4 linked regions of the Homo sapiens genome follow. The protein of the gene in region 1 purifies or fractionates together with the protein of each later gene. This does not show direct contact. Each region holds a gene or a part of one and is shown in the gene's direction. Other genes may lie near its edges. The genes, in order: PRPF8, DDX23, SF3B1 and EAPP.

What was found.
Region 2: the proteins of PRPF8 (region 1) and DDX23 purify together in Homo sapiens (affinity purification with mass spectrometry; 7 studies listed by BioGRID and IntAct, with this or other methods). This does not show direct contact.
Region 3: the proteins of PRPF8 (region 1) and SF3B1 purify together in Homo sapiens (affinity purification with mass spectrometry; 5 studies listed by BioGRID and IntAct, with this or other methods). This does not show direct contact.
Region 4: the proteins of PRPF8 (region 1) and EAPP purify together in Homo sapiens (affinity purification with mass spectrometry; 5 studies listed by BioGRID and IntAct, with this or other methods). This does not show direct contact.

Annotation. Positions count from the first base shown.
Region 1 is NC_000017.11:1,674,844-1,681,867, reverse strand, and holds part of PRPF8 (pre-mRNA-processing-splicing factor 8), read left to right. Parts: coding exon 1-48; intron 49-177; coding exon 178-390; intron 391-813; coding exon 814-939; intron 940-1,036; coding exon 1,037-1,142; intron 1,143-2,068; coding exon 2,069-2,259; intron 2,260-2,457; coding exon 2,458-2,577; intron 2,578-2,661; coding exon 2,662-2,851; intron 2,852-2,986; coding exon 2,987-3,106; intron 3,107-3,215; coding exon 3,216-3,350; intron 3,351-4,173; coding exon 4,174-4,303; intron 4,304-4,695; coding exon 4,696-4,892; intron 4,893-5,156; coding exon 5,157-5,363; intron 5,364-5,497; coding exon 5,498-5,661; intron 5,662-5,813; coding exon 5,814-5,940; intron 5,941-6,055; coding exon 6,056-6,248; intron 6,249-6,528; coding exon 6,529-6,716; intron 6,717-7,024. UniProt on the Homo sapiens protein: Plays a role in pre-mRNA splicing as core component of precatalytic, catalytic and postcatalytic spliceosomal complexes, both of the predominant U2-type spliceosome and the minor U12-type spliceosome.
Region 2 is NC_000012.12:48,835,154-48,842,177, reverse strand, and holds part of DDX23 (probable ATP-dependent RNA helicase DDX23), read left to right. Parts: intron 1-2,071; coding exon 2,072-2,165; intron 2,166-2,268; coding exon 2,269-2,334; intron 2,335-4,097; coding exon 4,098-4,236; intron 4,237-4,520; coding exon 4,521-4,654; intron 4,655-4,784; coding exon 4,785-4,897; intron 4,898-5,140; coding exon 5,141-5,284; intron 5,285-5,383; coding exon 5,384-5,609; intron 5,610-5,911; coding exon 5,912-6,057; intron 6,058-7,024. UniProt on the Homo sapiens protein: Involved in pre-mRNA splicing and its phosphorylated form (by SRPK2) is required for spliceosomal B complex formation.
Region 3 is NC_000002.12:197,404,007-197,411,030, reverse strand, and holds part of SF3B1 (splicing factor 3B subunit 1), read left to right. Parts: intron 1-1,023; coding exon 1,024-1,261; intron 1,262-2,449; coding exon 2,450-2,662; intron 2,663-2,911; coding exon 2,912-3,033; intron 3,034-5,558; coding exon 5,559-5,756; intron 5,757-5,853; coding exon 5,854-5,955; intron 5,956-6,176; exon of another isoform or gene 6,177-6,313; intron 6,314-7,024. UniProt on the Homo sapiens protein: Component of the 17S U2 SnRNP complex of the spliceosome, a large ribonucleoprotein complex that removes introns from transcribed pre-mRNAs.
Region 4 is NC_000014.9:34,536,697-34,543,884, reverse strand, and holds the start of EAPP (E2F-associated phosphoprotein), read left to right. Parts: upstream 1-4,183; 5' UTR 4,184-4,256; coding exon 4,257-4,330; intron 4,331-7,188. UniProt on the Homo sapiens protein: May play an important role in the fine-tuning of both major E2F1 activities, the regulation of the cell-cycle and the induction of apoptosis. Promotes S-phase entry, and inhibits p14(ARP) expression.

The DNA of each region.
Region 1 (7,024 bases):
TGTGTTGGACTGGTTCTATGACCACCAGCCGTTGAGGGACAGCAGGAAGTGAGTGATAGATGGAGATACTACACCTGGGAGGAGTTCTGGAAATGCAGAAGGAGTCCTGGGAGATCAGTAGGTGGTATGGGTTTGTCTAGCTGCTTACTTGAGGTGGGCCTTTCATTTTTTACCTAGGTATGTAAATGGCTCCACTTACCAGCGCTGGCAGTTCACACTACCTATGATGTCGACTCTCTACCGCCTGGCTAATCAGCTCCTGACAGACTTGGTGGATGACAACTACTTCTACCTGTTTGATTTGAAGGCCTTCTTTACGTCCAAGGCACTCAATATGGCCATTCCTGGAGGCCCCAAATTTGAACCTCTTGTTCGAGACATCAACCTACAGTGAGTTGGAGAGATTAGGGATTTTAGACATTTTGAGTTGAATGAAACGTAATCTTGATCCTTAAAGTCCTGATATAACTTCCAAATTAGTCTGTTTACACCAGGTGCAGTGGCTCACGCTGTAATCTCAGCACTTTGGGAAGCTGAGGCAGGAGGATTGCTTGAGCCCAGAAGTTTGAGACCAATCTGGGCAAAATGGCAAAACCCTATCTTTACCAAAAAATGTAGCTGGGCGTGGTGACACTCACAGCTTCGTGTAGTCTCAGTTACTTGGGAAGCTGAGCTGTGGGAGGATTGTTTGAGCCCAGGAGGTCACGGCTGCAGTGAACGATGATCATGCCATTGCATTCCAGCTTGGGTGATAAGAGTGAGACCCTGTCTCAAAAAAAAAAAAGTCTGCTTATTCTTGATGTTGTACCCTAGGGATGAAGACTGGAATGAATTCAATGATATTAACAAGATTATCATCCGGCAGCCTATCCGCACTGAGTACAAGATTGCTTTTCCTTACTTGTACAACAATCTTCCACACCATGTCCACCTCACCTGGTAAGAGACCTGGAACACAACATTTGGAAAGGAGAAGGCTGCTGTTTAGGTTGGGCCAGGGCGGGAAAACTTTGGCTGACTCTTCCTTTCATTTTAGGTACCATACTCCCAATGTTGTATTCATCAAAACTGAGGATCCTGACTTGCCAGCTTTCTACTTTGACCCTTTGATCAACCCAATCTCCCATAGGCACTCAGTCAAGGTGAGGAAGGGAAGGGATGCTTTCCCTCAGCTCTTCTAGGAGAAATGCGTGAGGTTGGCTGATGTTACTAAACGCTCAGGTGGAGGGAGATGTGTTTTCCGTCTTGCTAAGTGTTCCCCTTGAGCTATAAGCGAATATGAGAATTCAGCATTTGCTTTAAAACATGTCATTGGTATAATCCTGTTTTCTGTGATTATCCTTTTGGACTTTACGGTTCTTTTCTTGGGTGCTCTAGATAATCTGTCCCGGTCTGTCTCTATTGTGTTTGTTTGTTTTAGCCTTTATATTGAGATGTAGTTAACATACCATACAAGTTATCCATTTAAAGTGTGTAATTTGATGGTTTTTAGCTTATTCTCAGAGTTGTCCCAACTGTCACGACATGCAATTTGAGAATATTTTTATTACTTGAGAAAGAAACCCTTAGCAGTTACTCGCCATTTCTCCCCAACTTCCTTACGCAACCACTAATCTACTTTCTGTCTATAGATTTGGCTATTCTACACATTTCATATGATAGAATGAAATAGAATCGTACACTATGTAGTCTTCAGTGACTGGCTTCTTAAGCTTACCATAATGTTTTTGATGCTCATCTGTGTTCCGTTGTGTCCAAGCCCAGTGTTTGGAGCTTGGGTGGGAGATGATTGCAATGTTGACCTCCTGTGATGTTGGGGCTCCATTGGGAGGCTTTCTGGTGGTCAGCCAGTTGAGGTGTGAGAAGTGACGCTTGCTTTCCTGGTGGCCCTGTCTTGTTCTTTGCTGTCTTGGTTTCCTTTGTGCTGGCACTTCAGGGCTGCTTTTGTCAGACAGCCCAGTTTCCATAGCAGATACAGGCTTTGTGCTTGGCCCCAGAGAATTTCCCTCATCTTAAGTCTGTGCCTAGTTCAGCAGGAGCTAAACCCTTAGAGGGATTCCTTTTTCAGAGCCAGGAACCATTGCCGGATGATGATGAGGAATTTGAGCTCCCGGAGTTTGTGGAGCCCTTCCTGAAGGACACACCCCTCTATACAGACAATACAGCCAATGGCATTGCCCTGCTCTGGGCCCCGCGGCCCTTCAACCTACGCTCTGGTCGCACCCGTCGGGCCCTGGACATACCCCTTGTCAAGAACTGGTAAGGTTTTTCCCTGTGGCAGGGGGAATGATAGTGGATGTGTAGGAGAAAAGACTCCAACTAGGTGGGCATGTAGCCTTTTTTTTAAATTCTTTTTTTTTTTTTCCCATAAAAATGGTAGACAACCCAAGGCTTGCAGCCTTTAGCAGAGTGTCTGGAAGAAGAGATGGCCAAACTCTGGTGGGCTTATTTTTCCAGGTATCGGGAGCATTGTCCTGCCGGGCAGCCTGTGAAAGTGAGGGTCTCCTACCAGAAGCTGCTTAAGTACTATGTGCTGAATGCCCTGAAGCATCGGCCCCCTAAGGCTCAAAAGAAGAGGTAAGGTGCCCCAGGGGCCCTGCGCAGACTTCTGTTCCAGAGATATCAGTAGGCTGACTCTTACTCTCCATGTTCCCACCTCAGGTATTTGTTCCGCTCCTTCAAAGCCACCAAATTCTTTCAGTCCACAAAGCTGGACTGGGTGGAGGTTGGGCTCCAGGTTTGCCGCCAGGGCTACAACATGCTCAACCTTCTCATTCACCGCAAAAACCTCAACTACCTGCACCTGGACTACAACTTCAACCTCAAGCCTGTGAAAACGCTCACCACCAAGGTGCCTGCATTGGACCCTAGGGGCCTCCTGGGCTTCAAGGACGGACAGTTGTTTTCCTCTGGTTACTGATGAAGGCATACATCAGTTGGGTCCATTGCTCATTCACGTTCTGTCTGTTTTTTGCATCTTCTCCAGGAAAGAAAGAAATCTCGTTTTGGGAATGCTTTCCACCTGTGTCGGGAAGTTCTGCGTTTGACTAAGCTGGTGGTGGATAGTCACGTGCAGTATCGGCTGGGCAATGTGGATGCCTTCCAGGTAAGGTTAGGTATTCCCAACCCCTGCCTGGGTGAGGACGCTGGAGGAAGCCTGTGCTGACCGTGGAGCTGGTTTAAGCTCCAGGTCTGATGGGGCAATTGTATTGCAGCTGGCAGATGGATTGCAGTATATATTTGCCCATGTTGGGCAGTTGACGGGCATGTATCGATACAAATACAAGCTGATGCGACAGATTCGCATGTGCAAGGACCTGAAGCATCTCATCTATTATCGTTTCAACACGGTGAGACCTTGACTTTACTGACTTTCTTTTTTTTGAGACAGAGTCTTACTCTTGTCTCTTGGGCTGGTGTGCAATGGCACGATCTTGGCTCACTGCAACCTCCGCCTCCTGAGTTCAAGCAATTCTCCTGCCTCAGCCTCCCGAGTAGCTGGGATTACAGGTGCCCGCCACCACGCCTGGCAATTTTTTTTTTGTTTTGTTTTGAAACTGAGTCTTTCTCTGTTGCCCCAGCTGGAGTACAATGGCACGATCTTGGCTCACCACAGCCTCCGCCTCCCGGGTTGAAGTGATTCTCCTGCTTCAGCCTCCCAAGTAGCTGGGACTACAGGCGCGCACCACCATGCCTGGCTAGTTTTTGAAATTTTAGTAGAGATGGGGTTTCACTGTATTGGCCAGGCTGGTCTTGAACTCCTGACCTCAGGTGATCCACACTCCTCGGCCTCCCAAAGTACTGGGATTACCAGCGTGAGTCACCGTGCCCAGCCTCACTGGACTTAACTTTCTCAGATCTTTTTTCATGTATACATTTAGACAGGGCTCTTTCCAGGGACCTATTTGGAGAGCAGCTATGACTGTGTCCTTACTGCTCCTTTAAATTCACATGGGCGATCTTAGTTCCTGGTTTTTGCCTTAAGGTTTCTCATTTACCCTTTTGTTTTAGATGTTGAGGTCCCAGAGTTTTTTTTTCTTTTTACCCCTCTACTGCCATACCTACATTCCTCTGTATGTATATTATACATATATGCCCCACCTCTGCCCAGGTTTCTATTGTTGTTTAAATGCATTGCTAACTTGTATTCTTAACTTCTGCTTGGGATCGTAGGGCCCTGTAGGGAAGGGTCCTGGCTGTGGCTTCTGGGCTGCCGGTTGGCGAGTCTGGCTCTTTTTCATGCGTGGCATTACCCCTTTATTAGAGCGATGGCTTGGCAACCTCCTGGCCCGGCAGTTTGAAGGTGAGTGGTTTTCTCTGTGTCCAACTTCTCCTGTTATTGCTTCAAAAGTACCTGCCCCTGTTTGAGTCTGTTCCCTGCTCTTGTATGAGCACTCTTCCTACTGGATTGCCTTTAGGTCCAGTTCTGAAATGAGTCTGACCTAGTATTCTATTTCTTGGGCTTCCTTCTGGGGCCTTGAGAGGCAGTCATGCATTTGCAGGAGTGGAAATTCCTCAGAAGCATAGTTGTGAATGTTTAAGGTAGCTCGTCTTTTTGCATATGCTGGGCACAGGGACGCTTTGTTAATACCTAATTTTATTAATAACCATAATGAGTGAGGAGCATGAAGGTAGAGACCCTTATTGAAAGCAAGGAATCTTCCTTGTAATCCCCTTGGGACACTCTACTTCCAGGTCGACACTCAAAGGGGGTGGCAAAGACAGTAACAAAGCAGCGAGTGGAGTCACATTTTGACCTTGAGCTGCGGGCAGCTGTGATGCATGATATTCTGGACATGATGCCTGAGGGGATCAAGCAGAACAAGGCCCGGACAATCCTGCAGCACCTCAGTGAAGCCTGGCGCTGCTGGAAAGCCAACATTCCCTGGAAGGTGGGTGTCTCTTTATTTCCTTGGAGGCGTAAACATCCGTCTTTAGGGTAGGATTACCACTTCGGGAATCATTAGGGGGCTATCTGGCTCCAATCTCTTTTCTTTTCCCTTTTAGACAGGGAAAAGAAGCACCATGTTGCTTAGGCTGGCCTCAAGCTCCTGAGCTCAAGCGATCCTCCTTAGCCTCCTGAGTAGCCGGGACTACAGATGTGTGCCACAGTGCCTGGCTGGATCCTGGCTTGATTGTGCTTTTTGGACTTTTAGGTCCCTGGGCTGCCGACGCCCATAGAGAATATGATCCTTCGATACGTGAAGGCCAAGGCTGACTGGTGGACCAACACTGCCCACTACAACCGAGAACGGATCCGCCGAGGGGCCACTGTGGACAAGACTGTTTGTAAAAAGAATCTGGGCCGCCTCACCCGGCTCTATCTGAAGGCAGAACAGGAGCGGCAGCACAACTACCTGAAGGTTGGGCAGAGTAGGCTGGGCTGGGTGTGAGTGGTGGGGGAGTGGGCAAGAGGGAGGACTGTAGAGTTGTGACTGAACCTTGTTCTGGCAGGATCGGGCTGTAGCGGGAGGCTAATTTCATGTCCACCTTACAGGACGGGCCTTACATCACAGCGGAGGAAGCAGTGGCAGTATATACCACCACAGTGCATTGGTTGGAAAGCCGCAGGTTTTCACCCATCCCATTCCCCCCACTCTCCTATAAGCATGACACCAAGTTGCTCATCTTGGCATTGGAGCGGCTCAAGGAAGCTTATAGGTGAGTAGTAGGGTAGATAGGTTCCTGCTGGGAAGGTGACAGCAGGGAATGGCGTCATCCTCAGAGTCCAAAGAAAGAAGGTGTAGCCCCAGTCTTTCCTGGTTTTACTTCCTCCTAGTTTTCCCATTCACCCTTCCCATTGCTTTTGTCAGTGTGAAGTCTCGGTTGAACCAGTCTCAGAGGGAGGAGCTAGGTCTGATCGAGCAGGCCTACGATAACCCCCACGAGGCGCTGTCCCGCATCAAGCGTCACCTCCTCACACAGAGAGCCTTCAAAGAGGTGAGTGAGGCCTCCCAAGTTTTCTTTTTGGTTCTACCAAAGGTAGCAGTTGCCTTTGGTTCTACCAAAGGTAGCAGTTGGTGGATTGGTGTGAACCAGCCTCCTTGTCCCACAGGTGGGCATTGAGTTCATGGATCTGTATAGCCACCTCGTTCCAGTATATGATGTTGAGCCCCTGGAGAAGATAACTGATGCTTACCTGGACCAGTACCTGTGGTATGAAGCCGACAAGCGCCGCCTGTTCCCACCCTGGATTAAGCCTGCAGACACAGAACCACCTCCGCTGCTTGTTTACAAGTGGTGTCAAGGTAGAACTTTCATGAGATCGCCCTGTGAGGAACGGGGCAGGAATTTAGTTCTACGTCAAAAATCTCATCTGGGTAGCATGATTGGTTTACTCTCTTGATGCGTGGTAGTAAAGGGAAGTAGTGTTCGTGTTAAACTGAGGAAAAGCCCATAGTCAAAGCAATCCAAATGAATACGTGGAATCATAGTGGGATTGGTTATGGAAGGTAATGATAGTTCCTGTGGGGCTAGTCTTGCAAGAGGATTTCTAACCTGCTGGAGACCTGCCTTGCTACTCCTCAGGCATCAATAACCTGCAGGACGTGTGGGAGACGAGTGAAGGCGAGTGCAATGTCATGCTGGAATCCCGCTTTGAGAAGATGTATGAGAAGATCGACTTGACTCTGCTCAACAGGCTGCTGCGCCTCATCGTGGACCACAACATAGCCGACTACATGACAGCCAAGAACAACGTCGTCATCAACTATAAGGTGCGTCTCAGGCGCAGTAGCATGGAATTGTGTGTGGAGTGCTTGTCTGGCCCACTGACTCAGAATTTGCTGAGGAGGAGGCTGGGTGCGGTGGCTCATGCCTGTAATCCCAGCACTTTGGGAGGCTGAGGCGGGCAGATCACGAGGTCAGGAGTTCGAGACCAGTCTGGCCAACATGGTGAAACCCCGTCTCTACTTAAAAAAATACAAAAATTAGTTGGGTGTGGTGGTGGGCGCCTGTAATCCCAGCTACTTGGGAGGCTGAGGCAGGAGAATCACTTGAACCCGGGAAGTGGAGGTTGCAGTGA
Region 2 (7,024 bases), on another chromosome or scaffold:
CCCCACCTCCCTCCCGGACGGGGTGGCTGCCGGGCGGAGACGCTCCTCACTTCCCAGACGGGGTGGCTGCCAGGCGGAGGGGCTCCTCACTTCTCAGACGATGTGGCTGCCGGGCGGAGGGGCTCCTCACTTCTCAGACGGGGCGGTTGTCAGGCAGAGGGTCTCCTCACTTCTCAGACGGGGCGGCCGGGCAGAGACGCTCCTCACATCCCAGACGGGGCGGCAGGGCAGAGGCGCTCCCCACATCTCAGACGATGGGCGGCCTGGCAGAGACGCTCCTCACTTCCTAGATGGGATGGCGGCCGGGCAGAGGCTGCAATCTCGGCACTTTGGGGGGCCAAGGCAGGCAGCTGGGAGGTGGAGGTTGTAGCGAGCCAAGATCACGCCACTGCACTCCAGCCTGGGCACCATTGAGCACTGAGTGAACGCGACTCCGTGTGCCATCCCGGCACCTCGGGAGGCCGAGGCTGGCGGATCACTCGCGGTCAGGAGCTGGAGACCAGCCCGGCCAACACAGCGAAACCCCGTCTCCACCAAAAAAATACGAAAACCAGTCAGGCGTGGCGGCGCACGCCTGCAATCGCAGGCACTCGGCAGGCTGAGGCACGAGAATCAGGCAGGGAGGTTGCAGTGAGCCGAGATGGCAGCAGTACGGTCCAGCTTTGGCTCAGCATCAGAGGGAGACCATGGAAAGAGAGGGAGAGGGAGACCGTGGGGAGAGGGGAGAGGGGAGAGGGAGCCTGAAGCTTTTCTATCTATGGATTCTTCTCTGAATCTTTGGGGGTTTTTTTGAGATGGAGTTTTTGTTCTGTTGCCCAGGCTGGAGTGCAATGGCACGATCTCGGCTCACTGCAACCTCTGCCTCTTGGGTTCAGGCAATTTTCCTGCCTCAGCCTCCCAAGTAGCTGGGAATACAGGCATGCGCCACCATGCCTGGCTAATTTTTGTATTTTTAGTAGAGACAGGGTTTCTCCATGTTGGCCAGGCTGGTCTCGAACTCTTGACCTTAGGTGATCCGGCCACCTCGGCCTCTCAAAGTGCTGGGATTACAGGCGTGAGCCATTGTGCCTGGCCTGTATACAGAGTTCTTATCAGGCCCTGAAAGTATAGGTTAGAATTCAAGGCAGAGGACAGAATGCTCCTAACAGAAACTCAGTGGGGTTGTTTGAATTATCTTGTAGATTAAGCTTAGAGCAGGTATGGGGAAAGGATTGTTGGGATTGATAGGAATGAAAAATGATGAGGGAATATAGATAGCAGTATCTTCTTGGCTTGTGGTGGTGGCCATGTAGGCTAAATTCATTGTATATTAAAGAGTTAAGGAGGGCCAGGCGCTGTGGCTCACACCTGTAATCCTAGCACTTTGGGTGGCCGAGGTGGATGTATCACCTGAGGTCAAGAGTTCGAGACCAGCCTGGCCAACATGATGAAACCTCGTCTCTACTAAAAATATAAAAATTAGCCAGTGGTGGCAGTACTCGCCTGTAGTCCCAGCTACTCAGGAGGCTGAGGCAGGAAAATTTCTTGAACCCAGGAGGCGGAGGTTGCAGTGAGCTGAGATCACACCATTGCACTCCAGCCTGGGCGACAGAGTGAGACTGTGTCTCAAAAAAAAAAAAAAAAAAAATTTTTCTCTAAACAACCACACCTGGCTAATTTTTGTGTTTTTACTAGAGACAGGGTTTTGCCATGTTGGCCAGGCTGGTCTTGAACTCCTGACCTCAGGTAACCCACCTGTCTTAGCCTCCCAAAGTGCTGGGATTATAGGCATGAGACACCGCGCCTGGCCTAGGGGAAATATTTTTGACATCAGTAGTAAAGTCCCACTTCCCAAAAGAGATTAGTCTCAAAAGGAGATTTGGGTAGAAAGGGGCCAAGACAGGGCCATAATTAGGTTTCAGAGCTGGCAGAATGACCATGCCTGCTAAGAGAGTTTCAAGACATGATAGATGACCATGGGCCAGTCTTGTTGAGTCATGGGGAAACTTCCATTCTCTTTTCGGGGCTCAACTTGAACCTCATCCAGGCACTGAAGTAAGAGTGATGTGGACCTTGTTCCTTTTCCTCAAAGCTTATCTCCTGGTCGAGGAAAAGACTTTAAATCTCGGAAGGACAGAGACTCTAAGAAGGATGAAGAGGATGAACATGGTGATAAGAAGCCTAAGGTAAAGGAGAGGAAGGATATTTTTCATCTTCAACTCGTGCGTTGCTTTGTTGATCTTTAAAGGGAGAGAGCCTTTATAGACTAAAGTTCTGTTTTATCTTCAGGCCCAGCCATTATCCCTGGAGGAGCTTCTGGCCAAGAAAAAGGCTGAGGAAGAAGCTGAGGCTAAGGTAAGTACTTGAGGGTCTTCATTCATCGGCTCAGGCTGCCATAACACAATACCACAGACTGGGTGACTTCAACGACAGAAGTTAATTTTCTCACAGTTCTGGAGGCTGGAAGTCTGAGAGCGGAGTGTCAGCAGGGTTATTTCTTCTGAGGTCTCTCTCCTTGGCTTATAAGGCTGTCTTCTTCCTCAGCTCTTCACATGGTCCTCCCTCTGTACACATGTACCCCTTGTGTTGGATTAGGGCTCACCCTAAAAGGCCCTTTTTTTTTTTTTTTTTTTTTTTTTTGAGACAGAGTCTCACTCTGTCGCCCAGGATGGAGTACAGTGGCATGATATCGGCTCACTTCAACCTCCACCTCCCAGGCTGAAGCAATCCTCCCACCTCAGCCTCCCAAGTATCTGGGACTACAGGTGCGTGCCACAACGTCCAGCTAATTTTTGTATTTTTTGTAGAGTCCAGATTTCACCACGTTGTCCAGGCTGGTCTCGAACCCCTGGGCTCAAGTGATCTGCCCTCCTTGGCCTCACAAAGTGCTGGGATTACAGGCGTGAGCCACTGTGCCCAGCCTAATGGGCTCATTTTAACTTAATCACCTCTTTACATGTCCTGTCTCCACATATAGTCAAATTCTGAGGTACTAGGAGTTAGGGCTTCCACATAGGAATTTTGAGCTGGGTACAGTGGCTCACACCTGTAATCCCAATACTTTGGAAGGCCAAGATGGGAGGATCACTTGAGCCAGGGATTTTTAGACCAGCCTAGGCAACATGGTGAAAACCCATCTCTATAAAATTTTAAAAATTAGCCATCTGTGGTAGCATGCGCCTGTAGTCCCAGCTACTCAGGAGGCTGAGGCAAGGATATTGCTTGAGCCCAGGAGGTTGAAGCTGCAGTGAGCCATGATGACACCACTGTACTGCAGCTTGGGCAACAGAGCGAGAGTCTGTCTCAAAAAATATATATAACACATGCATTGTTTGTTTGTTTGTTTGAGATGGAGTCTCGCCCCGTTGCCCAGGCTGGAGTGCAGTGGCATGATCTCGGCTCACTGCAACCTCTGCCTCCCAGGTTCAAGCAATTCTCCTGCCTCAGCCTCCTGAGTAGCTGGGATTACAGGCACGTGCCACCATGCCTGGCTAATTTTTTGTATTTTTTTAGTAGAGATAGGGTTTCACTGTGCTGGCCAGGCTTGTCTTGAACTCCTGACCTCGTGATCCGCCCATCTCGGCCTCCCAAAGTGCTAGGATTACAGGCACAAGCCACCGCACTCGGCCACATTTTTTTTTTTTTTTTAAAGGTAAGGTCTTGCTCGTTTGCCCAGGCTAAAGTACAGTGGTGCAATCACAGCTCACTGTAACCTCAAACTCCTGGGCTCATATGATTTTCCTGCCTCAGCCTCCTGAGTAGCTGGGACTATATGCACATGCCATCATGTCTGGCTGAGTTTTTTTATTTTTGTAGAAACAAGGTCTGCTATGTTGCCCAGGCTGGTCTTGAACTCATGGCCTCAAGCGGTCCTCCCATCTAGGTCTCATAAAACACTGGGATTACAGGCATGTGCCACCACGTCCAGCCTGAAAAAACATATGAATTCTGTAGGGGACATAGTTCAGTCCATAACCGAGTCCAAGGCCTATTTGTGTTTTCCTCAACAGGCTTAATGCCTGAGCAAATACTTTTGGGTTCCCTGCCATCTCCCCATCAGTGATGTGATTGTACCCTGCTCCCAGATCCTTTGTTGACAGTTCCAATCTCTTTTGTAGCCCAAGTTCCTCTCTAAAGCAGAACGAGAGGCTGAAGCTCTAAAGCGACGGCAGCAGGAGGTGGAAGAGCGGCAGAGGATGCTTGAAGAAGAGAGGAAGAAAAGGAAACAGTTCCAAGACTTGGGCAGGAAGATGTTGGGTTTGTTATTCTACCCTGTGTAGCCCCTAGATGGAAGAGGAAAGAGTGGGATGAGATACAGTGTCTCTTAGGAGAGATAGAAACCTGTTCACTCTGGAGTTTGGAAAGGGGAAGGATGGTGGGAGTTTATGAGAAAACATTTTTCTGTTAGATCTCCATTTACCCCATATCATAAGTCTACCCCTTTTTTTCTTCATTTGGGGTTCCTCGTCTGGATTCCCTCCATTCCCTCTCCTCTTTTCTTCCATGAGCTCTTCTGCAGCTTTGCTTTCTTTGGTCTGCAGAAGATCCTCAGGAACGGGAACGTCGGGAACGCAGGGAGAGGATGGAACGGGAGACCAATGGAAATGAGGATGAGGAAGGGCGGCAGAAGATCCGGGAAGAGAAGGATAAGAGCAAGGAACTGCATGCCATTAAGGTGCAGGCCTTGGCTCCATCTTCACTTCTCTCCCACACAAAAATGAGGTTTAGTTATTTGGCCATTGTGATCTCTGCATGTGAGAATTGGGCCTCAAAGCTCATGTGCTTTGTGTTCTGTCCCTGGGTAGGAGCGTTACCTGGGTGGCATCAAAAAGCGGCGCCGAACGAGACATCTCAATGACCGGAAATTTGTTTTTGAGTGGGATGCATCTGAGGACACATCCATTGACTACAACCCCCTGTGAGTGGCTTCAGGCCTGAGTTCTAGGTCTTTTCCACTAGGCAGTCCTAGAGAGCTGATGACTACGGAGGTGGAGGAAGTAAGATAAGCTGGGATGGAAAATTGGTAGACTGGTAGTCAGCCAGCCCTCTGGTGGAAGAAAGACCCTGTCTGGGAAGAACTGTTTCATACTAGTAGTCTGCCCTTCCTTCCTACTGCCGTTAACAGCTCCTTCTTTTTTCTTTTCCTCTATCTCAATCCCAGGTACAAAGAACGGCACCAGGTGCAGTTGTTAGGGCGAGGCTTCATTGCAGGCATTGACCTCAAGCAGCAGAAGCGAGAGCAGTCACGTTTCTATGGAGACCTAATGGAGAAGAGGCGAACCCTGGAAGAAAAGGAGCAGGAGGAGTGAGTGATCAAGGCTAGGGTGGCTGGACAGAGCCCAGAGGCTCTACAGAAAGGAGTTGGAGGGCACTGATTCTACTTACTCCTCACACCCTGCTCCAGGGCAAGACTCCGCAAACTTCGTAAGAAGGAAGCCAAGCAGCGCTGGGATGATCGTCATTGGTCTCAGAAAAAGTTAGATGAGATGACGGACAGGGACTGGCGGATCTTCCGTGAGGACTACAGCATCACCACCAAAGGTGGCAAGATCCCCAATCCCATCCGATCCTGGAAAGACTCTTCTCTGCCCCCACACATCTTGGAGGTCATTGATAAGTGTGGCTACAAGGTAAGGAGGGATAGATTGGCCCAAGAGATCTGACATGTTCCTACACTAGTTTGGGAATAGAGAACTTTGTTCCTTGACTATTTGGAGCCATCGCTGCTAGTGGGCACCAATGTGACCTTTTCTGTCACTTTCTGGTAGAAGTGTTGGCTTTTAGTGATTAGGTTTCTTCTTGGGGTCCCTATTTCTGTGAACTGTACTTGGCATCCTTCCATTGTGCTAGCAGATGTGCTTACTACTATCAGTGGTTGCCCAGGTGGTATAACTCTCCCTGTACCTATTACTCTTTCTTGGGGTCACTGCAGGAACCAACACCTATACAGCGTCAGGCAATTCCCATTGGGCTACAGAATCGTGACATCATTGGTGTGGCTGAGACTGGCAGTGGCAAGACAGCAGCCTTCCTCATCCCTCTGCTGGTCTGGATCACCACACTTCCCAAAATTGACAGGTGAGGTCAGCTAGCACCAGCTGGAGTGGGTTTGTCTGGGTAGGAAAGGTGAAAGTGGCAAATGAATGTTTGATTTTTGTTTTACGTCTATAATCAGAAGCTTTCTTCTTTATTCTTTGTTGGATATTAGGGAATAATTGGATCATGATATCGAAGAAGTATATGTTGCTGGCAAAGACCTGGAGAACTTTGCTATCCTGGAGTCTCTGATTTATTTTATTTATTTTTTTGAGGCAGAGTCTCACTCTGTCACCCAGGCTGGAGTGCAGTGGCACGATCTCAGCTCACTACAACTTTTGCCTCCCAGGTTCAGGTGATTCTCCTGCTTCATCCTCCTGAGTAGCTGGGGATTACAGGCGTGTGCCACCACTTCTAGCTAATTTTTGGTTTTTTGTTTTGTTTTGTTTTTTGAGACGGAGTTTCGCTCTTGTTGCCCAGGCTGGAGTGCAATGGCGCAATCTCGGCTCACTGCAACCTCCTCCTCCCAGGTTCAAGTGATTCTCCTCCCTCAGCCTCCCAAGTAGCTGGGATTATAGGTGCCCGTCACCATGCCCGGCTAATTTTTTTGTATTTTTAGTAGAGACGGGGTCTCAATGTTGGTCAGGCTGGTCTCTAACTCCTGACCTCAAGTGATCTGCCTGCCTCAGCCTCCCAAAGTGTTGGAATTACAGGCGTGAGCCAGTGTGCCTGTCCTTAATTTTTACATTTTTAGTAGAGATGAGGTTTCACCATGTTGGCCAGGCTGGTCTCAAACTCCCGATCTCAACTGATCTGCCTGCCTTGGCCTCCCAAAGTGCTGGGATTACAGGCGTGAACCACTGCACCTGGCTGAATCTCTGATTTTTATGTATTTATTATTTATTTATTTATTTATTTTTTGAGATGGAGTCTCGCTCTATTGTCTAGGCTGGAGTGCAGTGGTGTGATCTTGGCTTACAGCAACCGTTGCCTCCCAGGCTCATATCCT
Region 3 (7,024 bases), on another chromosome or scaffold:
GGTAGGTGGAGACTGCAGTGAGCCGTGATTGTGCCACTGCACTCAACCTGGGCGACAGAGTGAGACCCTGTGTCAAAAAACAAATGAAAATCCACCTCTCATCTTTTTTCATTAATCTTGCCAGCATCAGCTAGGGTAATATTATTTGGTACACATGTAACTGTACATACAAACTGATCTCAAGATTGAAATCATGTGACGGTATCTGGTTATAATTACATAGGTGGGGCCTGGTGCGGTGGCTCACGCCTGTAATCCCAGCACTTTGGGAGGCCAAGGTGGGTGGATCACGAGGTCAGGAGTTCGAGACCAGCCTGACCAACGTGGAGAAACCCTGTTTCTACTAAAAATACAAAAATTAGCCCGGCGTGGTGGCAGGCACCTGTAACCCCAGCTACTCAGGAGGCTGAGGCTGGAGAATCACTTGAACCCGGGAGGCAGAGGTTGCTGTGAGCCAAGATCATGCCCCGGCACTCCAGCCTGGGTGACAGAGCGAGACTCTGTCTCAAAAAAAAAAAAAAAAAAAAAATTACATAGGTGATCTAAAGCATGTTTATATTAATTAAACACACACAATTAAACAAAACATCAACAGGACTATTTTCTTAGAACACACGAATTCCTTCTCCCCTAAATATGTGTCTCTAAGCCCCACTTTGAGAAGTACTAATGTAATTAGAGCTGAAAGCCTTCGATTACTGATCTAGATAGAGAAACCTCAGTGATTTCCCCCAGTCACAGAGCTATTAATGGCATATCAAAGATTCATATCGATAATATTTTGTTTTTTTAAGCTGGGACTTTTGTCAGTGCTTCGGATTGAAACTTTACATTGTTTTTAATCATAAACATTTGCTAGAAAGTAGGTATCTTTTCCTATAAGTAGAGGTAGTGTCTTCTAACTTTTCATTAATTATAGTGCATAGAACTAAAACATTTTTCGTTTAAAGTTTTTTATTTTATGGAAATTTTCTAATTATTTCTGTGTGGGTGTGTGAAATAAAATTTTTTTGCTTTTTTAAGACCCCTGGGCATACTCCTTCCTTAAGATGGGATGAGACACCAGGTCGTGCAAAGGGAAGCGAGACTCCTGGAGCAACCCCAGGCTCAAAAATATGGGATCCTACACCTAGCCACACACCAGCGGGAGCTGCTACTCCTGGACGAGGTGATACACCAGGCCATGCGACACCAGGCCATGGAGGCGCAACTTCCAGTGCTCGTAAAAACAGATGGGATGAAACCCCCAAAACAGAGAGAGGTACTTCTAGTGGAGTATGGGTGTGTGGGTGAAATGTTGAGTGATATGTTTACAGACTGAAATGTGTTCTGTTTATTCCTGGGTGGACACGTATAAATAACCAGCTGCTTTTGGGGGACAGATTAAGAATAGAACAGTTCATATGCCTAATTTTTTCCACTTCTTGAAGTGGTTTAAGATTTAAGGAAGAACCTTAGGTAAAAGTAAAGTTAGTAGGCTGTAACCTTTGATTTTGTGTGTTTCTTTAGAGATAGGGTCTTGCTCACTGTAGCCTTGACATCCTAGGCTCAAGTGATCTTCCCACCTCAGCCTTCTTAGTAGCTGAGACTATAGGGGCATGCCACCATGCCTGGCTAATTTTTTTTTTTTGAGATGGAGTTTTGCTCTTGTTGTCCAGACTGGAATGCAATGGCGCGATCTCAGCTCACTGCAACCTCCACCTCCCGGATTCAGGCGATTCTCCTGCCTCAGCCTTCCTGAGTAGCTGGGATTACAGGCATGCGCCACCAAGCCCGGCTAATTTTGTATTTTTAGTAGAGACGGGGTTTCTCTATGCTGGTCAGGCGGGTCTCGAACTCCCGACCTCAGATGATCTGCCCCCCTCGGCCTTCTGAAATGCTGGGATTACAGGCATGAGCCACCGCTTCCGGCCCCTGGCTAATTTTTAAATTTTTTGTAGAGACAATGTCTTGCTTCATTGCCCAGCCTGGTGTTGAACTCCTGGTTTCAAGTGATCTGCCAAAGTGTTGGAATTACAGGCATGAACCACTGTGCCTGACTTACCCTTTGTTTTTTATTATGGAAAAATGTACATAACATCAAATTTACTTTTTTTGTTGTTGTTGTTGAGATGGAGTCTTGCTCTGTCACCCAAGCTAGAGTGCAGTGGTGCGCTCTCGGCTGACTGCAACCTCTGCCTCCCCAGTTCAAGTGATTCTTTTGCTTCAGCCTCCTGAGTAGCTGGGATTACAAGCGCCCACCACCACACCTGGCTACTTTTTGTATTTTTAGTAGAGACAGAGTTTCATCATGTTGATCAGGCTGGTCTCAAACAACTTTAAATGGGTCACCATTTTAGGAATATTCTATTTTAGAACTTGATAGTTTTGAGTATAACTGTTTGAGAATAAAGAATATTATTTTAACAGTGATTAAAATTGTGGTTTTACTCACTCTTTCTTTTTAAAGATACTCCTGGGCATGGAAGTGGATGGGCTGAGACTCCTCGAACAGATCGAGGTGGAGATTCTATTGGTGAAACACCGACTCCTGGAGCCAGTAAAAGAAAATCACGGTGGGATGAAACACCAGCTAGTCAGATGGGTGGAAGCACTCCAGTTCTGACCCCTGGAAAGACACCAATTGGCACACCAGCCATGAACATGGCTACCCCTACTCCAGGTAGAACTGTCTCATTGGACATAATTGTTTTTTTCTCCATAAATTATTTAATTTTTTCCTTTGTGGTATTCTGTGTACTATTAATGTCAACTTCTAGTAAGAATAAGGAGATATACAAATTTAAGTCTTGGTTTGCGTTTATAATATAAAAGCAAATAATAGGATTGATCTTAACTGTCTTTTATCTCAATGTATGTAATAATACAGTCTTGTACTATAGATTATATAAAAATTTGCTTTTCTTGGTAGGTCACATAATGAGTATGACTCCTGAACAGCTTCAGGCTTGGCGGTGGGAAAGAGAAATTGATGAGAGAAATCGCCCACTTTCTGATGAGGAATTAGATGCTATGTTCCCAGAAGGATATAAGGTAGTACATCAAATTTGAATGAGGTGGTATTTAGGATATACATTTATTTTAAATAGTGAAAAAAATTGATTAAGCTTGCATTGGCTTTGCCCAAATTTACTATTGTCATTCCATTCTCTTAGCTATTTCCAGGTATATTTCAGTTCCATATAGAGATGAAAAGAAATGAACAACATGAAACTTTTATTACTTTTTGAAAGACATCTCAAAGACTTGTGTATGGGTCTATCGGTTATACTTTGAGAACTGCTGGTGCTTCAGTTTTCTAGCAGTCCCAGGAATAAGCTCGTTGAGATTGTGGTTATTTTACTTGGTGCTTCACCAAGATTTTATATACTTAAGTTTATGGATTGTCAGTGGACACAAAGAATTTTTTTTTTTTTTTTTTTTTAAAAGATGGAGTCTCACTCTGTTGCCCAGGCTGAAGTGCAGTGGCGTGATTTCGGCTCATTGCAACCTCCGCCTCCCAGGTTTAAGCGATTCTCTTGCCTGAGTTTCCCAGGTACCTGGGATTACAGGTGTCCACCACCATGCCCGGCTCATCTTTGTATTTCTAGTAGAGACAGGGTTTCGCCATGCTGGCCAGGCTGATCTTGAACTCCTGACCTCAAGTGATCCGTCCCTCTCAGCCTCCCAAAGTGCTGGGATTACAGGCGTGAGTTACCGTGCCTGGCCTTTTTATCATATCAACCTAAAATTTATTTTGAACTATAAAATTTTCTAGGTACCTGGTACTCAGGGAGTATTTGTTAGTCTGAAGATAGTCTGTGGTCGTATAGCTGACATCATAACCAGGGGGAACCAGATAACTTTGTAAGTCATCTGATGGCCTTTACAGAGCTTTTTCTGTTAATGACTATTGATTTTTAACAGTTCATGAGTATGTTTTTTGTTGTTTTGTTTTGTTTTAGAGACAGGGTCTCACTGTGTTGCCCGTACTGGAGAGCAGTGGCGCTGACATAGCTCACTGCAGCCTTGGACTCCTGGGCTCAAGTGATCCTCCTGCCTCAGCCTCCTGAGTAGCTGGGGCTACAGGCATGCACTACCATACCTGGCTAATTTTTTTATTTTTTGTAGATACGGGAGTCTCACTGTGTTGCCAGGCTGGTCTCAAACTCCTAGGCTCAAAGTACCCACATTGGCCTCCCACACTGCTGGGGATTATAGGCATGAGCCACTGTGTCCAGCCTTGTTTTGTTTTTGATCCCCTGTTATTTGTGTTAGAGTATTTGTTTCAAGTTTGCATGAAGTTTTGCCTTAAAGCTTTTTGTAGCCTCCACATAATGCTGTGGGTATAGATAGAACTGTGGGTATAGATAGACAGAACTTACTGTTGACTGCCTGCATGTCTTTCTCAGTCGTAGTCATTGATTTCCTTAGTGTCACTAGGAGGAAAAGTCTCCCTTAGTGAATCCTACTAATAAGCAACGTCCTTACTAGTGAATATAAAAATATAGTAGACCTTTAAATCCTTAATGGCAAGTGATGCCTGTGGACTTGACATTGATTTCTCTAGGCCTCACATCTTTAGAGTATCCACTTTATCCAAAATGCTTAGTGGTCTGTGCTGGTGCAGACGTTAACTAGCAACAAAAAATATCTGTGCAAAGTACAGATAGCATCAATATAAATTTAACATAATTTAATCTTTAATAGACAAAACAATTTTAGGCTCACTGGAGAAGACGTGTATAGGTTTATTGACCTCTCCAAGAAGTTGTATTTTTTTTCTTTTACTATATATTAAATTATATAAAATAGAGATGGGGTCTTGCCATGTTGCCAAGGCTGGTCTCAAACTCCTGGGCTCAAGCGTTCCTCCCATCTCAGCCTCCCAAAGTGCTGTAATCCTGGCCTGTCCAGAAGTTGTTTTTTTTTTTTGAAGTCTGTTACCAGCTTTAAAAAAAAAAAAAAAAATTTCTTTGTGATTTTCAGCCTGCATTTTTTGAAATTTTACTCGTTTTGCAAAAGGTTTGATCAGGTGGTGTGTATTTTATAGGGCTTTGGCAAACATTTTGGTTTTAGTTTTTATGCATTTAACTAATTTTTGTAGAGTTTTACACTTAAAAGATTTTGTAGTGCAAGAATTTATGTGACATTTTAATACTAAAATATAATTTTTTATGTTTTATGCCCCATATGAGCTTATTTCCATTTTATATAAATCTTATGAAACATTATTTGCTCGACTACAGCATTTTTTGGAATTGCTGACTCAGATTTTATAATTTTCAAATTTTTAATAATTTGACATTTTGACCCACAACATGTTTGAATGTGATTAGTATTTTCTAAGCTCTTCTCTTGTGTTTCCTCAGTTCCCTACACCACGGATATAATCAGTTAGTGGATGAGAAGTATATATTTTAAGTTTCTAATTAAGATAGAAAAGCAAGATAGATGTTGTCTCCAAGCAAATAAAAACCTTATTAGCTAATAAACTAAAATATTTTAAGTGCAAATATTGTTCATTATGCTGTTTTTTAAGTTAAGAAAATCCTAAACTGTCTTATAACTTTTATTAGGTACTTCCTCCTCCAGCTGGTTATGTTCCTATTCGAACTCCAGCTCGAAAGCTGACAGCTACTCCAACACCTTTGGGTGGTATGACTGGTTTCCACATGCAAACTGAAGATCGAACTATGAAAAGTGTTAATGACCAGCCATCTGGAAATCTTCCATTTTTAAAACCTGATGATATTCAATACTTTGATAAACTATTGGTAAGTGATACTAGCAGAAATAAACTATTAATTGTGTTCCAGAATTATAAATCATAACATTTCAACTTCCCTTAACATTTTTTTCTTTTTACTATAGGTTGATGTTGATGAATCAACACTTAGTCCAGAAGAGCAAAAAGAGAGAAAAATAATGAAGTTGCTTTTAAAAATTAAGAATGGAACACCACCAATGAGAAAGGTAAGTCCCAGTTTGTTAAATTGTCATGTTTGTTGCTTATTTATTTAATTAAAAAAAATTTGTAGTTTTTGTAGAGACAGGGTTTTGCCATGTTGCCCAGGCTGGTCTCAAGTGATCCTCCTGCTTTGGCCTACCTCCCAAAGTGCTGGGATTACAGGTGTGAGGCTCTGCACCTGGCCATGTTTATATTTTTAAAAATGTTTTTAATTTTTTCACCAGGAAATGTAGACCACAAAATAGTAGTGAACTATTGGTATAGCCCGCTGTGGAGTGTGGTCTTTCCTTTACTCTCCCAAATAGCCCAAATTGGTAAAGGTTATTTAGAAAGCCTTCCCCATAAAAAATTAACTTTTGGTAGTGTTATATTTTTGTGTTTAGGAATTTATAATTACTGTCTTCATCTTTATCAAGGACATAGCATGAGGGGAAAAAATTTATGTAGTGTGAAGGATTTAACTTTTTTGCTTGTTTTTATTATTAATATTATATATATATTTTTGAGACAGGGTCTTGCTCTCTTGCCCAGGCTGGAGTGCAGTGGTGTAGTCTTGGCTCACTGCAACCTCCGCCTCTTGGGTTCAAGCAATTGTGCCTCAGCCTTCCAAGTAGCTGGGACTACAGGCGTGCACCACCACGCCCTGCTAATTTCTGTATTTTTAGTAGAAACGGGGTTTCACCATGTTGGCCAAGCTGGTCTTGAACTCCTGGCCTCAAATGATTAACCTGCCTCGGTCTCCCAAAGTGCTGGGATTACAGGTGTGAACCACCATGCCCAGCCGTTTGTTTTTATTATTATTTAAATACTCCTGGGCTCAAGAGATCCTCCTGCCTCAGTCTCCGAAAGTGTTGGGATTACAGGTGTGAGCCACCGTGCCCAGCTGGAGTTAGCACAAAATTCTTTGGTTAAAAAAGCTAATAAAAATGCTGAAAAATGAGATTCTCCTTTTTGTTCTTAAGGCCTTTAAAATATGCTTAAAGCTTGAAGATAATTAGTGAAATTATGTGAGGGATTATGTTAACACTATATGTGCCTTGGAAATGGAAGATACTTCAGGGAAATGAAGGCATT
Region 4 (7,188 bases), on another chromosome or scaffold:
GACGGGGGTTTCACCATATTGGCCAGGATGGTCTCCATCTCCTGACCTCGTGATTTGCCCTCCTCGGCCTCCCAAAGTGCTGGGATTACAGGTGTGAGCCACCGCACCCGGCCTCTCATGTAAAATAATTAAAAAAAAAAAAATTCTGGGCCGGGCGCGGTGGCTGACGCCTGTAATCCCAGCACTTTGGGAGGCCAAGGCGGGCGGATAACCTGAGGTCAGGAGCTCAAGACCAGCCTGGCCAACATGGTGAAACCCCGTCTCTACTAAAAAATACAAAAATTAGCTGGGCATGATGGCGGGTTCCTGTAATCCCAGCTACTCCGGAGGCTGAGGCGGGAGAAAAACTTGAACCCAGGAGGCGGAGGTTGTAATGAGCCGAGATCGCGACATTGCACTCCAGCCTGGACGACAGAGTGAGACTCCGTCACAAAAAACAAAAAACAAAACAAGAACCAAAAAAAACACATAAAAAACAAACAACAACAACAACAAACGAAACCTCTAATCACAGGTCAGTTTTACTGTTTCTCAGGTCCAGACTCGTTCTGTGCTGTTGGCAGGGTATCCTGCAGTGGCCACTCCTGTCTTACTAACAGACCCTGATTTTGTCCACAGGATCAACACACCCAGCTAAAACAGCTCAACTTCCTCATCACACAACACAGTTCTGGCCAGTTAGACACACGTCCCCGGAAAGGGCATCTCCAGGAGAATAAAAAGGCCAAGCCACTTTTTGAAGAAAGTCTTTGTCCCTACCCCCTTTTTCTACCTGGAAGTCAGACTCAGGCCTGGAGTGTAGCGGCCGCCTTGGTACCTGGAAGCAACAATCATGGCCGGGAGACCTTACACCTGGCATGGTAGAGCAGACGGAGGAGGGGCCGCCTGGTGAATAGCCTGGCCAACAGCCCCAAACTGCTACCCCTTAAATTCTGGGTAGGTGAGAAAAATAAGTCCTGTCTAAGCTGCTCATTGTTTTAGTTACCTGTAGCCAAAGTTAAATCCTGCCTAAAAGGGTTCTCCCCTCATTTTTATATTACATGCCATTTTTTATTTTATTTTATTTTATTTTATTTTATTTTATTTTATTTATTTAGAGACAGAGTTTCGCTCTTGTTGCCCAGCCTGGAATGCAATGGCGCGATCTTGGCTCACTACAGCCTCTGCCTCCCAGGTTCAAGTGATTCTCCTGCCTCAGCCTCCCGAGTAGCTGGGATTACACGCACCCGCCACCACGCCCAGCTAATTCTTTTTTTTTTTTTGAGCCGGAGTCTCGCTCTGTCGTCCAGGTTGGAGTGCAGTGGCGCAATCTCAGCTCACTGCAAGCTCCACCTCCCGGGTTCACGCCATCCTCCTGCCTCAGCCTCCCGAGTAGCTGGGACTACAGGTGCCCGCCACTGCGCCTGGCTAATTTTTTGTATTTTTAGTAGAGACGGGGTTTCACCGTGTTAGCCAGGACGGTCTTGATCTCCTGACCTCGTGATCCGCCCGCCTTGGCCTCCCAAGGTGCTGGGATCACAGGCGTGAGCCACCACGCCCAGCCAAAAAGTTGTTTTAAAATTTTTTCGAGAGATAGGATCTCGCTTAGTTGCCCAGGCTGGTCTTGAACTCCTGGGCTCAAGCAATCTTCCCACTTTGGACCCCCACAGTGCTGGGATTACAGGGGTAAGCCACCACACCCAACCTCAATCTTCTTGTGATCTGTTATGTTGACAACCAAGACAGCTACTTAGTGGTTGGTTGATGGGTGGACAGTGTATACAGCATGGACACACTGGACAGAGGCATGACTCAATGTTCCAGGTAGGACGGCAACAGATTTCATCACGCTACTCAGAACAGCACAACATTTAAGACATAAATTGTTTCTGGAGTTTTTCATTTAGTATTTTCAGATTTCAGGTGACTGCTGTAACTTGAAGCAAGAAAAGTGAAACTACAGAAAAGGGAGGACCACTGGACGGCTGCTTTCATTCTACGCCCACTTTTTAGAGTGCATTCCTACAATAAGCACCCTAATAATGTAAACCAGGGGCCAAGGGATGCACCTTCCACTCTACTTCCTTCCCCAGAAAAGACCACCTTGGTAAATACAGAATGGCAAACGGTTAAGTGAAACACTGTATAGCTTCTGGCCCTATACTTAGTATTTCTTAACATTTACACAGCATTTTCACATTTCCAAAGCAGAGTACCAACATTTATTAATCCTCACAACACCCCTGTGAGGTAGGTCAGTATGTCCTTTAGAGTCGAGAACTGAGGCAGAGGTCAAGCAAACCTGCCCTGGGCCACAGAGCAGCAGATGAAGGGCCTAGACCTGGATCCAGAAGCTAGGGCTCTCGGTCCAGCATTCATCCACTGGTGGACATCACATGGGCTTATTTTTACCAGCGAAGGTTACGTGAAGGACAAAACGCACTCAGCCAGCAACGGAAACTCAACAGTTCAAACAGCACTGGGGAACATGTCAGTTAAAGAGACGAAACGCTGACCAGCTCATGAATGAGGCAAGACAACATGCGGCTGAGGAAGTGTGGAATCATCACGACTGGGGATTAGACCAAGAACGGGCGCTCAGGAGGGTTCAGGAAAATGTAAACAAACTAGGAACCCATCCAAGGGGTGACAGGCCCAAATGCCTACGGTCTCCAAATGGTAGAAAAATTAGAAAAAGATAGTGGAAAAATCCAACCACGCAACCTTAACTTTAAACTAGGAATGACAATAATGTGTCTAATGTTCATTCACACTAGAAAGGCCGATAATGTTTGTAATATAACTACTGGCGATAGTATCCTATTTGTATGCCAACTTTCATCTCAAGTATTCTGCTTTTCTTTCCCCACAGACAAACAAGTGTTGTTCTTTACAGCAGACCTCTTTCCCTCTACATACCAATCTATCCACTCGCATAACTACTAAGTGGCTCAATGGCCTATGTCTCATGCTTAATTGGCTGAGCTAGGCGCGGAATCCGGGAAACCACAACAGACTGTACTCTGCTCCTGTATTTCAGGAATAACTGTCACTAACCTGCTTCTGTCCGATTCCACCTTCTATGAAGTACACACAGAGGAGCAGTTCATTCTTTTGTAAAGGGATTGGTGGACTTTGTTCGAGATGCCATTTCAAAAGAAATGAGAAAAAAGAAAAACTAAGACCTGCACTGTAAAGCATAATACAGGAGTAGATTTATTACAGCTACTCCACATTTTAGAGAGTGCCACAGTGTCTCGGTAGGAGGCAGGAACCCGAGTTCCTGGTTCAGAAACAGGGTTAGAAACAGTCTCCCGATGGAGCTCAAGTGGCTGTCATCTGCCTGTTCTCCTCAGGTATCGAGTGGGATCAGTTGAGGGCTGAGCAAAAGTGGGGACTGGGAAGATGACGAGAAAAGATAACTTTTCGTAGATTGTTGAGGCCGCAGTCAGACTGAGGAGTGAACAGTGTGAAGGAGAGGTTGAGAGCCTCATGGTGTGGAAGGCATAAGGGTTAGAGGCGAGGTTGGAGGGATGTGGGTGCTGGTGTCTGAGGACTTATTGGATTTCGGGCTGTGTGTCCCTCAGCGTCTAGATTCCTGCTTCGTAGGTGATGAGACGCTGCATGTAGCATGTTCACCTCAGAGACTGTCACTTATGAGGGTGCCCATCATTATTATTTTTGGTGACAAGGTAGCTGCTATTTTCCTGTAAGCAGAAGCTGCGGAAGAAAATGGTGGGATTGGCCGGGAGCGGTGGCTCACGCCTGTAATCCCAGCATTTTGGAAGGTCGAGGTGGGCGGATCACCTGAGGTCCGGAGTTCGAGACCAGCCTCAACATGGAGAAACCCCCGTCTCTACTAAAAATACAAAATTAGCCGGGCGTGGTGGTGTATGCCTGTAATCCCAGCTACTCGGGAGGCTGCGGTAGGAGAATTGCTTGAACCTGGGAGGCGGAGGTTGCGGTGAGCCGAGATCGCGCCATTGCACTCCAGCCTGGGCAACAAGAGCGAAACTCCGTCTCCAAAAAACAAAACAAAACAAAAATGGTGGGATTAAGACCCGCCCCCGTCCCGTCCCCGCCCCTTTTCGCTCCTGCTCCGCCCCTTCCCCGCCTTCTACCTGCCTCCCTCGGTGCTGTCGGTCTGCGCGGGCGCGCAAGGGGGACTGGGACGTTCAGGCGGAAGTGGCGTCAGGGGCGCTTTAGGGACTGGACTTGCAGTGTAAACAGAGACGCTGCAAATTGCTTGTGGACGGTGTAGGCCGCTGCAGGCCACCATGAACCGGCTTCCGGATGACTACGACCCCTACGCGGTTGAAGAGCCTAGCGACGAGGAGCCGGCTTTGAGCAGGTGGGCTCCCGCCCCACCCTGGCCCCCGAGGATTTGGGTCGAGGCCTGGCTTTGGTCGCCTCCATTCGTTGCGCCTGCCGAGCCTACGCAGACCCTAGCGGCTCGGGAGCCTGTCGTGCCTGTTACTTGTGCGAAGCCAAAGGGCTTTCCTGATGGGGTCGCGCAGTCCCGGGGGGAGGCGGTGCCGATGTCGCCTGTAGGAAGAGGGATATTCCGGAATCACGGGGGACCGCGTGTAAATCTTCAAAAGCAATGAGATCGAAACCTGTCTCTACACCTTAGTAGCAGAGTGACGGAAGGCAAGTCAGTTATCCTCGATTACTCACCTGTAAAATTGAACTATAATAACATAATTGTATAACCTATATAACATAGTATAACACACTATGTTTGTTGTGAGGCTCACAGGACTTAATGTGAAGTGTCCATCTTGAAGACTAAACTGCCATAAACAGAAATAAGGGAATATTGAACAGCCTTTTTTATTTTTATTTTTTGACAGGGACTGTTGTATGCTCGCTCTGAGCTACAGAGATAAATCATAAGGTCCTTGTCTTCCAGAGGCTTATAGTATAATAAGGGTAATAAGATAAAGTATATATTTCTTGGCAGAGCATTGTAGAGAATATTGACCTGAGATAGGCACAGAAGAAGGTTCGTGGGATTTCCAGAAGGGTGGGCTTTATTCTACCAGGGAAACTTGAAGCTGTTTTGCCGAGATATTTCCACACAAATTTAGTTATTTCTTAAGCTGTCAGCAGATCCTATTCTTAAACTTTAAAACATTCATTCTGCCTAAAGAAGCTTTCTGTAAAGCCATGCTTTCATTAACAACTTTGGCTGGGTGTGGTGGCCCATGCCTGTAATCCCAGGACTTTGGGAGTCTGAGGCGAGAGAATCTCTTAAGCCTGGTAGTAAAGGAACAGCCTGGGCAACATAGTGAGACCTCATTTCTTAAAAAAAAAAAAAATCAAAAGAACAATGTTTCCTCATATTGTCATGGGGAGACATTGGATGCATGGGAAATCAGACTGCTGTTAAGATTTCTTTTGTTGGGAGTGAGGATAGATACCAGGATTCCCTGTGAAAAAGAGTTTCAGTTAATGGGTCCTGTCTGTGAAAGGAGGTATGTATATATGTATGTCTCAATTATTTATTTATTTATTTATTTATTTTGAGACAGAGTCTCACTCTGTCAGCCAGGCTGGAGTGCACTGGTGCAATCTTGGCTCACTGTAGCCTCCACCTCCTGGGTTCCAGCAATTCTCCTGCCTCAGCCTCCTGGGTAGCTGGGATTACAGGCATGCGCTACCACACCTGGCTTATTTTTTGTATTTTTCGTAGAGATGGGTTTTCACCACGTTGGCCAGGCTGGTCTTGAACTCCTGACCTTAGGCAATCTGCCTGCGTCGGGCTCCCAAAGTGCTAGGATTACAGGCCTGAGCCACGGAGCCAGGACTGTTGTATCATTTTTTTAAGGAAGCTTTATAATTCTGTGACAGTTGCCACTGGTAAGGTAACTGTAAAGATAAATATTATAAAAACAAAACAATGTTATCAGACAGTATTGCCTGTTGTAGGCTCTGAGCCAAATGGTTATTATTTTAAAAAGGGAGATTAGTGTTAGAGAGGTGTCTGTCAGTATTTAATTTTACACTGTTTATAAACTAATACATTGTAGCCTGTTAACTGTTTCACGGTAGCTGACCGAAGACATGAGACTCCTGGGTCAAAGATAAGACTACACATAGCACAGCAAGCAGCATGAGCATCATGTTTGTGTGGCTTGCTCTTGCTTGTCAACCCTACAGGTATTACGCTGAGGGTCCTAGAAGAATGCTGCACATTCAGTGGGTTGGCATCGTGGCTAAAGACTACTTGAGCTTGGAGAATCCACCTCTTTCATAGAAGACAGTAAATACATCTGCTCTTTGTCCTGGAAGGAGACATTATCTCATTCCTCAAGGTTGTTGTTCGCTGCAAACACAATCCTGAGAAATGGCTGGAGTGAACAGTGGTCAGAACCTTGCATTCTTGGCATACTTAACTTGCATATCTAGGGTCCATGATGTATGACTGCCTTTCTCAGCAGTGCTGAAAACTGAGACTTTGGTTGAGATAATGACAAGGATTGAAGAAAATTTGTAGAAAAAATAGCTCTCACTTTGTGATTCAGTTTTTAAAAATTAAACATTTTATTTTGAAGTTTTCGTAGATTCACATTCAGTTATAAGAAATAATACAGGTCTGGTGCAGTGGCTCACATCTGTAATCCCAGCACTTTGGAAGGCCAAGGCAGGAGAATCACTTGAGCTCAAGAGTTCAAGACCAGCCTGAGCAACATGATGAAATCATGTCTTTACTGAAAATACAAAAAATTAGCTGGTATGGTGGTGCATATCTGTGGTCCCAGCTACTCAGGAGGGTGAGGCGGTTGGTTGGCTTGAGCCTGGGAGGCGGAAGTTTCAGTGAGCCAAGATGGCACCATTGCACTCCAGCCTGGGCAACACAGGGAGACCCCCATCTCAAAAAATAAAAAATAATAAAAAAAAAAGAAATAATACAGAGAGATCCTGTGTACTCTTTCCCCAGTTTCCTCCAGTGTTAACATACTACAAAACTATAGTGCAGTATCACAACCAGGATATCTATCTATCTATATATCTATCTATGTATTTTTTGAGACGGATTCTGAATCCTGTAATCCCAGCTACTTGGGAGACTGAGGCAGGAGAATCGCTTGAGCCCAGGAGGTGGAGGTTGCGGTGAGCAGAAATCATGCCACTGTACTACAGCCTGGGCGACAAGAGCGAGACTCTGTTTCAAAAGAAACAAACAAACAAACAAACAAAAAAACC